Linked DNA regions of Homo sapiens. The protein of the gene in region 1 purifies or fractionates together with the protein of each later gene. This does not show direct contact. Each region holds a gene or a part of one and is shown on either strand. Other genes may lie near its edges.

What was found.
Region 2: the proteins of BPIFC (region 1) and METTL21C purify together in Homo sapiens (affinity purification with mass spectrometry; one large-scale study listed by BioGRID and IntAct). This does not show direct contact.

Annotation. Positions count from the first base shown.
Region 1 is NC_000022.11:32,413,271-32,416,641, forward strand, and holds the end of BPIFC (BPI fold-containing family C protein precursor), read right to left. Parts: intron 2,722-3,371; coding exon 2,645-2,721; intron 1,156-2,644; coding exon 1,033-1,155; 3' UTR 575-1,032; downstream 1-574.
Region 2 is NC_000013.11:102,688,578-102,692,296, forward strand, and holds part of METTL21C (protein-lysine methyltransferase METTL21C), read right to left. Parts: intron 2,388-3,719; coding exon 2,236-2,387; intron 1-2,235. UniProt on the Homo sapiens protein: Protein-lysine N-methyltransferase using S-adenosyl-L-methionine as methyl donor. Mono-di and trimethylates 'Lys-943' of AARS1.

The DNA.
Region 1 (3,371 bases):
TCTCAGTTATGAATTGTCTGAGTTTAGTACTCTGCACTGCCATTTCATTGAATCTGTGGTGGGTGAAAAATCCCAAAGCTTGAAGTGATACAACTTTTAGAGTTTCCTGTGGTTACCCTGTTCCTTCTTGGAAAGATTTCAGAGGTAAAGAATTCTCTTTTAAAATCAAGCCTTGATGTCTGTGCAACCTTAGGTCTCTTCCCTTTTCTATGTCTTATTTTATTTTATTATTTTTTTGAGTTGGAGTCTTGCTCTGTCGCCAGGCTGGAGTGCAGTGGTGCCATCTCGGCTCACTGCAACCTCCGCCTCCCAGGTTCAAGCGATTCTCCTGCCTCAGCCTCCCAAGCAGCTGGGACTACAGGTGCGTGCCACCACTCCCAGTTAATTTTTGTATTTTTAGTAGAGACTGGGTTTCACCATGTTGGCCAGGATAGTCTCGACCTCTTGACCTCATGATCCGCCCACCTTGGCCTCCTAAAGTGCTGGGATTACAGGCATGGCCTACTGTGGCTGGCCTCTTATTTTATTTTTTAAAAATTCAGGGCAGGCCATTTCTCAAATAAAAAAACCAAGATTGAAGTTGATAGAAAACAATTTTAATTAAACACAGAAGATAGTAACAGTGAATATAAAACATGAAAACCAATATGCAGGTAGGGGAAAACCACTAGAGGGCCTAAGGGATTTCCACTGAGAATGACCAATACAAATACAGACTTAGAGTTGCTTACCCACCTGGTCAGAAGTACATGCCTAGCTCTTGTCCTAGAATCTTTCTTGCCCCAAACAAACAAACAAACATAAACACAGACACACGCAGCATGCATACACTCACATTCAGACACCTCTATTTATCCCTTTAACAGAGTCTGCCTTATTCTGGGTTCCTGAAGGCTTAAGAAAGAAAACTTTCTGCCTAAGCAATTCACAAGGGCTTTACAATTCCAGTGTGTACTGTCTTTCCCTTCTGGGTTTACAGTAGTTGTAGGATTAAGGACCATTTACTTCCTGGGGTGAATTGCAAACCGGCAATCAAGGGGCTGACTTCCCCCTCCACTGTCTGCTTATCAGGTTCAGACCTTCCCATACGTGGAAACTTGGCTGCTGCTTTGAGGATGTTTCATACTTCAGGTCGGTGGAAATCAAAAGGAAACCCTGGAAAGGATGTGACAATGAAGATAACGTCAAAACTTGGGCATGTCTGGGTTTGTCTGAGGCGTGAGGAAGAGATGGCTTCTTTTTTTTATTATTTTAATTTTGAGATGGAGTCTCAAAGGCTGTCGCCCAGGCTGGAGTGTGGTGGTGCGATCTTGGCTCACTGCAAGCTCCGTCCCTCGGTTTCAAGTGATTCTCGTGCCTCAGTCTCCCAAGCAGCTGGGACTACAGGTGTGTGCCACCACACCCGGCTAATTTTTGTATTTTTAGTAGAGACAGGGTTTCACCATTTTGGCCAGGCTGGTCTCGAACTCCTGACCACCTCAGCCTCCCAAAGTGCTAGGATTACAAGCATGAGCCACCATGCCCAGCTGAGAGATGGTTTCTTTACCAGGTCCTACAGAGAGTCAGGCCCTCCTCTACCCTGGCCCTACTTTGTGAATGCCCCAGAGAAAGGAAAGGCCATTTTGGAGTACTGTCACCCGATGTGACTTAGCCATTGTAGAAGCAGTGGGGGAGAAGCAGGGAAGTGGGAGAGCATGCACGGTAGTGTAGGGCAGCGGTCCCCAGCCTTTTTGGCATTAGCGACTGGTTTCATGGAAGACAATTTTTCCACTGACTGGGATTGGGGGATGGTTTCGGGATGAAACTGTTCCACCTCAGATCATCAGGCATTAGTTAGATTCTCATAAGGAGCGTGCAACCTAAATCCCTTGCACAGGCAGTTCACAATAGGGTTTGTGCTCCTATGAGAATCTAATGTTGCTGCTGATCTGGTAGGAGGTGGAGCTCAGGCAGTAATGTTCACTCCTCGGCCGCTCACCTCCAGCTGTGCAACCAGGTTCCTAACAGGCCACAGACCGGGACAGGTCCTGGGCCTGGGTGTTGGGGACCCCTGGACTGTACAGGATTGGAGAATTTCTTTAGAAACATATTTCCACCTCCCCAAACAAACAACAATGCCAAAAAGAAAGAAAGAAAAAAAGGTATTCTGAAGTGAATGCATAATGATGAGCCGGAAAACGATTCGATCCCTGAACTCAAAGGTGTGTGCCTTTGGTTCAGGGGAAAGTCTTCTGACTGGGAGAATCAGAAGAGCCAGTCCTGTCCCAGCCATGCTCCTTTCCAGCTGCCTGAGCCACTTCTCTCTGAGTCCTCCTTTCCTCATCTGTAAAATGGGACTAATAATTCCAGCCTTACAGATTGTCTTGTGGAATAAGTAAAATAAAGCGTGCTAAGGGGCATCTTCTTATACTGTGGATTTGGCTGCTAAGTGAAATTGATCTTGGTCTGATTTTTAGACTCAACTCTAAATATTTTCTGTTAATTGTGATTTAAGAACTAAACATGTTTATAAGATTCCCTGGTCTGGGAAAAAGCAAAGCAGGACAAAAACAAACAACAACAACAAAAACAAGCAAAACAGGAGGAGGCTTAGTCTACTATAAAAAGAAATGGGTCAGTTAAGAGGTGAGATTTGCATTCTTACCTCAAGAACTTCAATATCTGAATTGACGAATAAGAATTTGTGTGGATTGGACAGAGGAAATCCTTGCTGCAATTTTGCTAAAATATAGAACAAGACGTAAAACAATTGGGCACAAGCACAGAGGTTTTAGCAAGCTTTTTAGTAAGAGACTGACTGACAGCTTGCTTTTTTTTTTTTTTTTTGAGATGGAGTTTTGCTCTTGTTGCCCAGGCTGGAATGTAATGGTGTGATCTTGGCTCACTGCAACCTCCACCTCCCAGGTACAGGTGATTCTCCTGCCTCAGCCTCCCGAGTAGCTGAGATTACAGATGCCCACCACCATGCCTGGCTAAGTTTTTTTGTATTTTTAGTAGAGACAGGGTTTCACCATGTTGGCCAGGCGTGTCTCGAACTCCTGACCTCAGGTGATTCGCCTGCCTTGGCCTCCCAAAGTGCTGGGATTACAGGCGTGAGCCACTGAGCCCGGCATGGACAGCTTTTTAATAGTTGATCTTTTCATTCTCCCCGGTTCCATGTTTGCATTCTCTCTGATATGTCCCTAGAATTTTCCTGGAAGAATTGCTCATTAATCTGTGATTAATAAAAAATGCACCTACAATTATGTTCATTTGGACAGTAGAGAAATGCTGTCCATTTTTAGCCTACCCGATGTATATTTTGAAAATACATAATTAGTGGGTCTTGAGAACATTTTGGTGTCTAATATACTGGGCCAGACTCCAGATGC
Region 2 (3,719 bases), on another chromosome or scaffold:
AGCACGCTGCAGGGAGCTCCAGAGCTTAGAAGGGAAGTTTTGAAGAAAGGAGTTCTTTGGTCCTTAAGGAGAGAAGAGAAGTATTTGCTGTGGGGGCTGGGAGGAGGGGGTCAATGTCAGGAAAAGAGTGTCACCTAGAGCCATTCAGAGGGCAGCTCTGAGGAACTTCCTGGAGATGGCTGCAGGGGTCCTTCCTGGTGCCCTGCCCTGTGAGGGGCTGGCCGCAGGGTGTCATGCGGAGACAAAGCTTTTCTCAGGGACAGCTGTGTCTTTTGACATTGCAAACATTCCCCCGCCAGCCCCTTGTCCTGTTAGCAAACTCTGAAGAGATCTTTTCACAGAGTTGCACCTGAAGTCGCACAGGAAAAGGGCGCCTTCCCACTCTAGATGCCCTTCTTGTGCAGCTTTCAGGAAGCAGGTTTCATGAGAGGCTAGTGTTTGGTGCATGAGTGATACCTTGTTCAGAATAAAACAGGGGGACAAATATTCTTTTTTCAATTTCTGATCTTTTTTTTAAAATTATTATTTTTAAAAGGGAGATGGGGTCTCACTATGTTGCCCAGGCTGGTCTCAAACTCCTGAGCTCAAGCGATCCTCTTGCCTCGGCTTCTGAAAGTGCTGGGATTACAGGCATAAGCCACATGCCCGGCCTCTGATCTCTTACTATACCACTTTCTCGCTACACCACTGCTGTCGTCTATTTGCTGAATGTGTTACAATAGGAAGCTGTGAGTAGTTTGGTGATTTTCAAACTCGTTTTTAAGGCAAAGAAAAGCCTTTAGTTGAAGGAAATTATATGCATAAGGTGTAAAAATAGAGCTCCCTGTTTGGGAGTGAGTGAAGGTCGACACCTAAGAGCCTGAAGCCCTTTGGCTACCCTTCTCCCCATCCTGTGCCATCGCCAGATGACCTGAGGGAGCCCCGTGGAACCACTAACCAGGAATACTCAATGTGGGCACCCTGGCCCAGCAGATAGGCATCACCCCGGAATGTGTAAGACCTCCTGAATCAGAATCCGCATTTTAACAAGACTGCAGATTGAGAACTTCTGATCTGGAGCCTTTCTAATCACTGACAACATCCGCAGTGGGAAAAGCAACCACACTGGCTCTGAGGGCCACTGTCTATCTTGGCTCTGCCCTGCACCCCAGTCGGGAGCTTTACCACGCCAGCAGACTGGCCTGCGTTCCCATTTCCTCAGCTGAAAGGTGGAAAGAATATTACATTAATGAGGACAGTTCATGTGAGCTTACGCTAGGACTTCATTTAATCTCACAATCTGAAATTAATTCTCACAATTCTGACAACCACGTCAGGAGCACTGTAGACATTACGACCACCCTAGGTTTTAAATATGGAAATGAAGGCAAACGGAGGTGAGGTGAACATTTGTGACTACCCAGCCCTGAAATGGCAGCTTTTCTGACTAAAAATCCAGAGGACTGCCCCCATTTCAGCGCCATCCTCTCAGGGCTGTGGCAGGGGTGACATGCCACAAAGTCATGCTTCCTAAACATCCCTACCGACACAGCCCCCATGGAAAAGAGATGAATGGCTGGCCGGCCGGGCGTGGTGGTTCACGCTTGTAATCCCAGCACTTTGGGAGGCCGAGGTGGGCAGATCACTTGAGGTCAGGAGTTCAAGACCAGCCTGGCCAATATGGTGAAACCCTATCTCTACTAAAAATACAAAAATTAGCCAGGCATGGTGGCGCGCACCTGTAGTCCCAGCTACTCGGGAGGCTGAGGCAGGAGAATTGCATGAACCCAGGAGGTGGAGGTTGCAGTGAGCCAAGATCGTGTCACTGCACTCCAGCCTGGGTAACAGAGTGAGACTCCATCTCAAAAGAAAAAAAAAAAAAAGAGAGAGATGAATGGCTGAGGGTCGATGGGCGTGGCTCGGAGATGCCCACTGCAAAATCTAAACTCTAAATCCCTGGGTTTATTCTTAACAATTTATACAAGTTTTGCATTCACTTCCTCATATAGCTGAGTTTATTTAATATAAAAATAATGTTTCGAGAAACAGAGCTTGAAGCAAAACCAGTGTTTCTGAAAGAAACACTGTTTTTGCTGATCCCAAGCACTCCACCAACACCCTCCAGGGGGCAAGCAACTGAACCTCAAATTGAGAAGCAGGATATGAAGGAACTTGACAAATTGTCCAAGGCAACTCTGAAGTACGGAATTGTTATCTCCAGAAATCCTGACATCACAAATATGACAGTTCTCTCACCCCTGGCCACACCACCGCTCCGTAACTCTCTATGGATTCCTGGATGACAATCTCCTTTCCTGCAAACCGATAATGCTCCTGAGTGTAGCTGGCGTAATCTGTAGGAACAAATTTCTGGAGGCTATGAAGAGATGGTTCTATCTTGTTGGATTCTGTGAAGCAGAAAAATAAAATGGAGTTCATGATTTGTTCAAATCCAGTGCAAAGACACACTTGGTATAATTGCTAAGATGGCATTAGATTGAATGACCTTTACATAAAGAGAAGGGATGATGCTATCAAGGAGAACGGCTGCAAATTGGCACAAAATTGAATTATATGGGGTGATGGGGACATGAAATTTGGATGTGACAGTTTTATCAGATGACAAAATGCCAAAGAATGCTCTGGGCCTTTTCTTTATTTAGGGGAGGACAGAAGATGTGTGGATCGGTCCCCACCCTAAATTTTGCTGATGGAAAAATGGCGAACTTACCAGCAAAATTGCACGAATGAGCTGTCTGGATACAGAGGAACTAGGTAAACACAAACCTGCCTTTTTTTTTTTTTCTTTTTGAGACAGAGTCTCACTCTGTTGCCCAGGCTAGAGTGCAGTGGTGTAATCTCAGCTCACCGCAACCTCTGCTTCCCGGGTTCAAGTGATTCTCCTGCCTCAGCCTCCTGAGTAACTGGGATTACAGGCGTGCGCCACCACGCCCAGCTAATTTTTGTATTTTTAGTAGACACGGGGTTTCACCATGTTGGTCAGGCTGGTCTCAAACTCCTGACCTCGTGATCCACTCGTCCTGGCCTCCCAAAGTGCTGGGATTACAGGCGTGAGCCACCACGCCCCGCCAGACCTGCCTATTTTTAGGTCTTGAAGTGAAGTAACATTCCCACGTGTTGGCTGGAGCATGTTCCTTCAATCTTTCCTACAATTGCTGTTCAAAAGGTAGAGGCCCAGCCAGCCCCACAGCCCTGGGGGAGGATGTCAGCTGAGCTCTGGCTATTAAGTTACTATTGCTTTAAATACTCCTTTAAACCCATGACCCATCTAGCAGCTCTCAGATGGCATATAAAATGAGAGGAAAAGAGCACCTGATCGGGCTGACATCAAGAGATCACAAGTGTTTGCAGGTTTTCCAGAGTGTTTAGGAATAAAAGAGCAGTGAGTCAAAGTGTGTGGAAGAAGGAGCAGGAGCAGAGGAAAAGGTGTTGGTCCCAGCGGGTGGGAAAGAATTAACAGTGCGGAGAGTAGGGGGGAGGAAGGTCAGTTTTGTTTGCACGAAACCTGCCTTTGTGGCCTGGGATATGACTGTAAAATGTTTAACCGGGGGTCAAATATGGGCTTTGGACAAAGGTAGAAGGGGGCAGCCGGTGAACATTGGAAGTGTTTTAATCTGAAATAGCCTCTCAAGGTGGAAGGCAGGAGGAGGTGAATACGAGGCAAAGGGAAGTGGGTCTTGGGAGAAACCTGGTCAGCAGGGCATCCCTCAGGTCGGGGG